3 separate regions of the Homo sapiens genome follow, and regions 2 and 3 are each reported to be linked to region 1. Evidence: microRNA targets listed by miRTarBase, many of them from high-throughput screens and not tested one by one. Region 1 holds a microRNA gene; each other region holds the end of a gene's coding sequence.
What was found. Region 1 holds the annotated microRNA hsa-miR-551b-5p (GAAAUCAAGCGUGGGUGAGACC, at 2,102-2,123, shown strand). A microRNA usually pairs through its seed, bases 2 to 8, with sites in the 3' UTR of a target mRNA and lowers its output. Matches are read on the target gene's strand: a 7mer-m8 pairs with bases 2 to 8, a 7mer-A1 pairs with bases 2 to 7 and ends in A, and an 8mer does both.

Region 2: the mRNA of ERCC1 is a reported target of hsa-miR-551b-5p. Seed matches in the 3' UTR shown: 7mer-m8 at 1,990-1,996.
Region 3: miRTarBase lists LRRC42 as a target of hsa-miR-551b-5p. Seed matches in the 3' UTR shown: 7mer-A1 at 2,497-2,503.

The regions. Positions count from the first base shown.
Region 1 is chr3:168,549,774-168,553,123 of GRCh38, forward strand. MIR551B (microRNA 551b) reads left to right here and starts at 2,081; the gene lies at 2,081-2,176. It also overlaps the pseudogene EGFEM1P.
Region 2 is chr19:45,407,065-45,410,064 of GRCh38, reverse strand. ERCC1 (ERCC excision repair 1, endonuclease non-catalytic subunit) reads left to right here. Exons shown (of 10, transcript NM_001983.4): 10 at 340-2,731. The coding sequence ends at 390. POLR1G (RNA polymerase I subunit G) reads right to left here. Exons shown (of 3, transcript NM_012099.3): 2 at 2,830-2,971; 3 at 1-1,932. The coding sequence ends at 564. Among named protein-coding and RNA genes, the nearest start is that of POLR1G, 1.9 kb to the right of the region's middle.
Region 3 is chr1:53,967,509-53,970,508 of GRCh38, reverse strand. It overlaps LRRC42 (leucine rich repeat containing 42), which reads right to left. Exons shown (of 9, transcript NM_001256409.2): 9 at 2,341-2,844. The coding sequence ends at 2,570. Among named protein-coding and RNA genes, the nearest start is that of LRRC42, 23 kb to the right of the region's middle.

The sequences.
Region 1 (3,350 bases):
TCAAGTCTATTTACTTCAAATTTACCATGGTTAAAATTGAGCTAATTTCCTACCTTCTTTAAATCTCTTTATGATTTCTCCTTACCTCTGAGTAAATGGTGTCATAACCACCACGTTCAGGGGGCTGGAAACCCATGAGTCCTCGTGCATTCTTCCTCAACATCCAATCCTCAAATTCTATTGGTGTTCATTGTTTTTTGTTGTTGTTGTTTTTTGTTTGTTTGTTTGTTTTTATCTTCACTGCCACAAGTCTGATTTTATACTCTCATTTTTCACATGAAAATGGCAACAGCTTTCTAACTAGCCTCTGCTGTCTCACCACTTACCGAGAAAACATCCAAATTCCCTGGCACTCACGCATGGCCTTTGACAACATGGTCCCTGCAAGTCCGATCTTTCCTCAGTTTTCTGGATCTCTCACCAGGTCCCCCCTTTTACCTGTTCTCTGGTGATAATGAACTTCCAGGAGTTCCTGGATCTTCCATACTTCTTACTTGCTCACCCTTCTTTCTCTTTCTCTCTTTCTCTTTGGAATGCCCTGTTTTAATTGCCCACTTGGAAAGTTCCTTTTCATCTGTTGTATCACTAGTTCCACTCCTCTACCCCACACTATGCATTAATGAAGGTCCCTTGGAAGGTCCCTATTATGTGGCCCATGCCCTTTGAGCAAATGCTACCTTGATGTAAAACTTTCCACAAAGAAGTTAATGTTGGTAAAGTGCCACTCGGAAATTAAAGCACAGTGCTTTGAAGAGTTAAATCCAATGACCTTGTAAAGAACTGGAAATTGTTAACAATGGTGCTGTCTGTCAAGGCTGGCATACTAGAGAGGCTCCGTGTGGACACCAAGATCTGAGCTCGTGAGGTAGGTGGGAGGGGGAGGCATGGTGATTATGGTAAATAGGGGGGCCCAGACAAGATGAGTCTTTCTGTCTCAGGAAGGAAAAAAAGATCACTGAAGAGTAAAGCTAGGGTACAGAATGGCAACACCAAGTTTAAGTGTTGATGCAAGGGTTGATGGCAATGAGATGAAGCTGAGCAGGGAACCAGGTAGAAATGGAACTGAACAGGTGCAGGGAGGCAATGGAGCAAAGAGGTTTCTGGGCCACTCTCAGGATCAGTCATGAAATGTCCTTAGCTTCTCATTTTTGTTGGAGGATATGTGGAGGCATAGAGCTTGGTCACATTGAGCTGACGCAAGTCACTGATTCCTGCAACCTCTAGTGATGCATTTCCAAACTCAGGTTAAAATGAAGGTCAAGAACTCCTGTTTTGCCATTTCTAAATTATTGGGATTAGGCTATGAGCTTATTTCGAGGTATTTTTCAGTTCTGCTATGCTATGACTCTGATTTTGTTTTTATTTGGTAATCTTATATGGACAATAATTGCATTTTGCAAATTTAAAAGTATCATGCCAACATGGTTTGTCTGTTACTTAGCTTTCATTTTTCTTTTAATGTTGGAAAATTGTGATACAAATTTATAGATCCTAAATTAACAAATTACTCAAGACTTTAGAATTTCTTAAAATGTTATGGTATGCTTTTTTTTTGAAAGCTCTACATTTTATAAAACCAAATTTGTCATACGAAGTTTTAGGTATCAAGAAAGAATTCTGTGGATTTTTGTGTTGTCAGGGTATCTTAGATTGTAATTTTATGTATTTTCCTTTTGGTACCTCATAAAAACTAGAAGGGCTTTCTTGAACTGCATACTTTGTCAATACAATTTGATGATGGAGAAAGACATTTAAGTCCAGAACGATTGGTGTAAAGTACACTGGGTGAGACTGTATAGTTGAATTTTCCAGATGATCGAAAATTGACAGTAAAGAAATATATACAAAATAGATTTTGAAAGAATTGTTGAATGTTTACCTGTCGCTACATATTATCTTGGATACAGTACAGATAATCCGAATGGAAAATTGCACTGAAAATGTCTTCCCCTGAGTTATATTTGCTGGTTCTTACATAAAATGTTATTTATACAACAGATTTTATTGTATCTTCTCTTGCTTTACTCCTTTATCACCTTCTAGCTAACTGTCCTGACTTCAGACCTCTGTTAGATCTGCCAGATGTGCTCTCCTGGCCCATGAAATCAAGCGTGGGTGAGACCTGGTGCAGAACGGGAAGGCGACCCATACTTGGTTTCAGAGGCTGTGAGAATAACTGCAATTTAGAGGGAATACCATTTATGTTTATGCAGGACTTCCAGAGAAAAAACAAAATTTATTATAGACATAAAGAATAAGAGATGAAATTCATGATTATATTGCATTTCTGTTCCAATGGGATTAAAAAAAAAAAAACACGTATTCTAAGTAAGTTGAACCAGGTTGACAGCTAATGATTTGATGTCTCTGTTAATGATTTTAAAACATTGTACAAATCCAAAACTGTTTACTCCTTCAAGGTATACCTCCTTTTCTCCCACTTCTCCAGCTATTGTGGTCCATTTGCCCTTGCTCTGGGCTAGTTCCTTGGTAACTAACAGAAATGGATGGACAGAGATGCCATGACAGGAGTATGGATTTTGCTGGGTCCTCATTTATGCTGGGGCATCTATCAACTCTTTTTCCAACATATTTTTGTTTCCCACACAGCCCCACTCACAGATGCTTGCCTATAGGGCCAAAAATCTCTAGTTAGCAATCTGCCAGAGTCCTGCTTTTTTGTGTAGGAGATTGGAGTTCTTTCAAATAACCCATCTGGTAAGATGTAGAGAAGTAGAGAAACTGAGGTAAATAAAATGTATATTGTTAAGTACTTTATTGCATACTTTGTACCTTTGCTGATAATTAATTTATAGACTATATCTGTTGAGCTGGTGTTGGTTAAGGTTGTATTTGCTTGTTTGTTTGTTCTATACTCTTTAAAAACTTTTGTGGGTGGGTAGGGAGGGTATAATGGTGTTGATGTATGTTGTCATCCCTTAGGCCAGAGGAACCATTTCACAATTACTTTTTATTTTCTCAACAAGAATTCTGAAGGCCTGTATCTTTGGCACAGAAAATTAAGCTATAAAGGCAAGTTCTGCCAAGTATATATTACATATCTCCTGGCCATGGATTTTGGTAGGCTGTGAGAAAAATATGAAAGTCATTTCCAAAGATTTATTTTGTATTTCCTTAATTGACTTTCATATTTGTAATACATTTTCTATTTATAAATGGTATTTCTTTGTTCCACTTAAGGTACCTTAATTTATAAACACACAAAATTAATCAAGGACATTTCCCCATTTTGTTAGGTTCTGAGAAGAATAAACCAAATTCTTCGCCAAGGCTTTTCCTTTTTTGGAAAATGCATTGGATAAACATGGTTTTCTTTGAATTATCTCAAT
Region 2 (3,000 bases), not on the chromosome of region 1:
AAAAATACAAAAAATTAGCTGGGCAGGGGCCTGTAGTCCCAGCTACTCAGGAGGCTGAGGCAGGAGAATGGCGTGAACCCGGGAGGCGGAGCTTGCAGTGAGCCGAGATTGCGCCACTGCACTCCAACCTGGGCGACAGAGCGAGACTCCATCTCAAAAAAAAAAAAAATAATAATAATAATAATAACTTAAAAAGATTGTAACTGGATTGTTTGTAACTCAATGGATAAATGCTTGAGGGTATAGGGGAAAATAAAGAACCAAAACCCCACTCTAGATTTACCCAGGAAACAGCTCCTTTAATGACTGGTTCCTCATTTTTTTCTCCCTCCCATCCAGGCCCGGAGGCTGTTTGATGTCCTGCACGAGCCCTTCTTGAAAGTACCCTGATGACCCCAGCTGCCAAGGAAACCCCCAGTGTAATAATAAATCGTCCTCCCAGGCCAGGCTCCTGCTGGCTGCGCTGGTGCAGTCTCTGGGGAGGGATTCTGGGGGTGTCACCTTCTGGTGGCCCAGGTGGGCACCTTCAGCTTTCTTTAGTTCCTCAGTTTCCCGGGGGCAGACTACACAGGCTGCTGCTGCTGCTGCTTCCGCTTCTTGTCCCGGCCTGTGGGAGCCTCCTCCCCAGACTCTGAATTCAGTGGCGGCCCTGGCATCTCCTCTTGGGGCACTGTCTCTGGCATCCGGCTTTCCTGACTCTGCTTCTTCCTCTTCTTGGTGGATCCCGGAGTTGCCCTGGCTTCAGGCTGTCCCTCCCCTGGCAGTTCAGGCTCTAGTGGCTGAATTGGCTCAGTCACTGTGTGACCTCTCTCTTTCTTCTTCTTCTTCTTCTTGGTGGATGTGGGAGCTGCCTGAGGCTCAAGGTCATCCGGCAGCTCAGGCCCCACCACCTCTGTCTCTGGCTCCACTGTGGCATCTTGCTGTTTTTCTTTCTTCGTCTTCTTTTTGGGAGCTGCCAGAGCTGCCTGGGCCTGAGGCTTCGCTCCTTCTGGCTGTTGAGGCGCCATGGTCCCCCCTGGGGACTCCAGAGGCTTCATCTCCGGCTCCACTGGCTCCATCGCCTCCGTCCCTGGCTCCATCATTGCCATCTGTCCCTTTTCTTTTTTCCTCTTCTTCGTAGGGGGCAGAGGGATGGCTTCCTCCAGTGGCTCCACCTTCACCTGTGGCTGAGACTCAACTGTCACCCCCTCCTCTGGCTCCATCCCTTCCGTCCCCTTTTGCCTCTTTCTCTTTTTGGTCGGGGACAGGACTGTGTCTTCTAGAGGCTCAGTGTTAATCTGTTCCTGCTTCACTGTCTTGTCTTCTGGCTCGAAGGTTTCTTTCCCTTTGGGCTTCTTCCTCTTCTTGGTGGTGGACGGGAACAGCACTCCCAGAGGCTCCAGTGTCTCCACTGTGGGCTCTGTCCCCACAGGCCCTGCTGCCTCTGGTTCTTTCAGCTGCTGATTTTTTTTCTTCTTCTTCTTCCGCACATCCATTTCTGGCGACCCCAAAGCCATGTCCACCTCCAGGGCCCCGTGCCCATTCACTGCCTCCTGAGTGACTGGGGCCTCTGTCACCTGCATCTCCTTTTTCTTCTTCCCTGAGGTGAGCAGGTTGGGGGCCAAGGCTGACCTAGGCCCTGTGACTGGTGGGTTGCCCCCAAAGGCACAGAACCGAGGCCTCAGGCCAGGAGGGATCTGTGGTGGGGGACTTGCTGGGATGGGCTGCAGAGGGCTCCCTGACAGGGATTGCTGGGGACCCTCAAGGATCCTTAGGGTGCCCTGGGGGGCTGAGGCACAGGTGAGTCCACCTCCTGCCTCCGTTGAGGGGGCCAGCAGGGTCGCTTCTCCAGCTTGGGGACAGCTGCTGAGGACTCGATAGCGGTGCCGCTTGCCTGCCAATTTGCCCTTGACGATCTGGGAGCCAGAGAGAGGCACATGCCGCCCATTGAAGCTACAGAGAGAAACAGGGAGGGCAGAGGCTTAAGTGGAACAGGAGAGGGAAGGTTTTTTGATTTTTTTTTTGTTTTTTTTTGAGAGAGTCTTGCTCTGTTGCCTAGGCTGGAGTGCAGTGGCATGATCTCGGCTCACTGCAATGTCCACCTCCTGGGTTCAAGCGATTCTCCTGCCTCAGCCTCTCAAGTAGCTGGGATTACAGGCACCTGCCACCACGCCCAGCCAATTTTTGTATTTTTAGTAGAGACAATTTCACTATGTTGGCCAGGCTGGTCTTGAACTCCTGACCTCAAGTGATCTGCTCGCCTCGGCCTCCCAAAGGATGGGATTACAGGCACCAGCCACTGCGCCTGGCTGGCCTCTGGTTTTTAATAAAACATGACTAGAGTGACTCCATCTTAAAGTGAGTAGCTAGGCACTTACAAGGTTCATGCTTATGGCCTGAAAATAACCACATCCCAGGCTGACCACCAATTATAATTACAGAATATTTATGGCCATACAGAACATGTTCCACCAAGCCTGCAGAATGTCCAAATGTCCTAAGAATGCAGCCCCCATTACTTAAATATAACATAAATGAGCAAGCTTAGGTTGCAGGATTAATGGTCGTGGATAACACCAATAGCCCCTACCTTTAGTGAGCTTATCTGCACACTCCAAGTTTAACTATAGTTCCTTATAGTTTCTTATAAGTAGAAATACTAACAAAGGGCTGTGGGTTTCTCCCCCTGCTTTCTGAGGACACTCTACTCTGTAAAGGAGTAGTTTCCAATAAACTTGTTTCTTTCACTGTGCTCTGTGACTCACCTCTAATTCTTTCCTGTGACAAATTCAAGAACCCGCTCTTGGGGTCTGGACCGGGACCCTCTTTTCCGTCAACAAGACCACTCACCATTCTGGGGCAAAGTCTGCAGGGGCCTGAATAAGCCACAGCTCCGTATCTGGACCCGTCAGCGCCTCCAAGGAGAAACGAGGGGACTCTGAGGCTGGGGGCTTCGCGGTAAAGTTGGGGGGACAAGAGAACCGAGCAGCATCTGCAGCAGAAGGGGAAATGGGGTCGACT
Region 3 (3,000 bases), not on the chromosome of region 1:
AATTACCATTTTAACATGTAACCAGTATTTCAAAATGGAGACTTTTTTTTTTTTGAGACAGAGTCTTGCTGTGTCACCAGGCTGGAGTGCAGTGGCACAATCTCAGCTCACTATGACCTCTGCCCTCCGGGTTCAAGCGATTCTCCTGCCTCAGCCTCCCAAGTAGCTGGAATTACAGGTGCATGCCACCACACCCGGCTAATTTTTTGTATTTTCAGTAGAGACGGGGTTTCACCATATTAGCCAGGATAGTCTCGATCTCCTGACCTCATGATCCGCCCGCCTTGGCCTCCCAAAGTGCTGGGATTACAGGCGCGAGCCACCACGCCTGGCTGAGACATTTTTCATTCAAACTTTTAGATACTAAGTCTTTGATATCTGATATCCAGTGTGTATTTTATAGCACATCTCAATTTGGACTAGCCACATTTCGAGTATTTAATAGCTACATGTAGCTAGGAGCTACATATTGGACAGTAAAGGTCTAGAGCTTTGCTACTCAATGTGTAGTCCACAAATTAGAGGCACTTTCAAAATATTTCTGCTCATAGACAATATACCTGATCACCCAAAAACTTACAAGATGAATGTTGTTTTCATGCCTGCTACCATAACACCTATTCTGCAGCATATGGATCTGGAGTAATTTCAACTTTCAGGTCTTATTATTAAATACATTTCACAAAGCAATAGCTGCCATAGACAGTGACTTCTCTAATGGATCTGGACAAAGTAAATAAGTAAATTAAAAACCTCTTGGAGGCCAGGTGCAGTGGCTCACGCCTGTAATACTAGCACTTTGGGAGCTGAGGTGGGCAGATCTCTTGAACCCAGGAGACCAACCTGGGCAACATGGTGAGACCCTATCCCTACAAAAGATACAAAAATCAGCCAGGTGTGACAATGGCATGTGCCTGTAGTCCCAGCTACTTGGGAGGCTGAGGTGGGAGGACCACCTGAGCCTGGAAGGTCGAGGCTGCAGTGAGCTATGATCACACCACTGCACTCCAGCCTGGGCAACAGAGCAAGACCCTGTCTCAAAAAACAAAACTAAACTTTCCCTCCTAGAAAAGACTCACCATTCTAGATGCCATTAAGAACATTTTGTGATTCATAGGAAGAGGTCAAAATATCAACATTAGGGCCGGGTGTGGTGGCTCACTCCTGTAATCCTAGCACTTTGGGAGGCTGAGGCAGGTGGATCACTTGAGGTCAGGAGTTCAAGACCAGCCTGGCCAAGATGGTGAAACCCCATCTCTACTAAAAATATAAAAATTAGCCAGGCGTGGTGGCATGCGCCTGTAATCCCAGCTACTTGGGAGGTTGAGGCAGGAGAATCACTTGAACCTAGGAGGCAGAGGTTGCAGTGAGCCGAGATCATGCCATTGTACTCCAGCCTGGGCCACAGAGTAAGATTCTGTCTCAAAAAAAAAAAAAAAAAAAAAAAAAAAAAAAAAAAATCAACATTAACAAGGGTTTGAAAGAAGTTGAATCCAACCCTCATGATTTTGAGGGGTTCAAAACTTCAGTGGAGGAAGAAACTGCAGATGTGGTAGAAATAGCAAGAAAGCTAGAAGTGGAGCCTGAAGATAGGACTGAACTGCTGCAATCTCATGATAAAACTTGAAAGGATGAGGACTTACTTCTTATGGATGAGCAAAGAAAGTAGTTTCTTGAAATGGAATCTACTCCTGGTAAAGATGTAACCATTGTTGAAATAACAAAGGACTGAGACTATTACATAGACTTAGTTGATAAAGCAGCAGCAGGGTTTGAGGGGACTGACTCCAATTTTGAAAGAAGTTCTATTGTAGGTAAAATGCTATCAAACCACATCGTGTGCTCTAGCAAAATCTTTTACAAAAGGAAGAGTCAATCAATGTGGCAAACTTCATTGTCTTATTTTAAGAAATTTCCATAGCCACTCCAACCTTCAGCAACCACCACCCTGATTAGTTAGCATCCATCCACCAACAAAGGCAAGACCCCCCAACCACCAACAAAACGAATGTAACTTGCTAAAGGCTCAGATAATTGTTAGCATTTTCTTTAGCAATAAAGTATTTTAAAATGAGGGTATATACATGTTTTTTCTTTTTGGAGATAATGCTATTGCACATCTAAGAGACTGCTATATAGTGTAAACATAACTGTTATATGCACTAGGAAATGAAAGAGTCTGGTGACTCACTTTATTGCAGTGTTTGCTTTACTGCAGTGGTCTGGAACCAAACCTGCAGTATCTCTGAGTTATGCTAAGCTGCCTTGTTAGTTCACCTGGCCTTCCATCCCAAACCGTGTTATTTCCTGTGGCTCCAGTCTATAATCCACAAGCAGAACTTAAGGACAGCAAAAATGTTTATTTGAAAAAATTACTATGTATTGAAAATATACATTAGAAATTATTACATACTTCCATAGCATTCCCCTCCCACACCACAAAAGTAGAAATATCTGCTTACTATGCTAATGCCATAGGTAAATTCAAACAAAAAGTAAATCATCCTCAGTCTCCTTTACTCAAACACTAGAGCTGGGGGCCAGAGAAAGGTCAACTTGTATCTACTAATCAATAGGAATTTAACAAGTCCCAGTCTTCCACAGCAAGACATACATATTTCTGCTTTGAAGGTTGTGAAGAGTTATTCTGTTCTGTCTCTGACTCCTCAAAAGGTCTCTTCTTGCTCTTCTTTGACTCCTGGCTTGAGATAGCTTCGTGTTTCAACACTGGCCCATGGCAATCTGGGGCTTTCTCTTTATAGAACTGGAGTTTCTCGGAAGAGTTCATGTGGGTGTCTGCCAGGGGACACTTCAGTGGGGCTTCTGCTCGAGACCGCTTCCCATCTGTGACAGAAGGGAGGGATGATGAGTTCACTACACTGGCATATGCTAATTCCCTCATCAGTCTAGGATAAACCCAGGGATATGACAAAGGCCCAAACAGGGTGATATCTGCATTGATTGCATTTTGCCTTGAGTGCCCTGTGAGGTCGCTGTGGT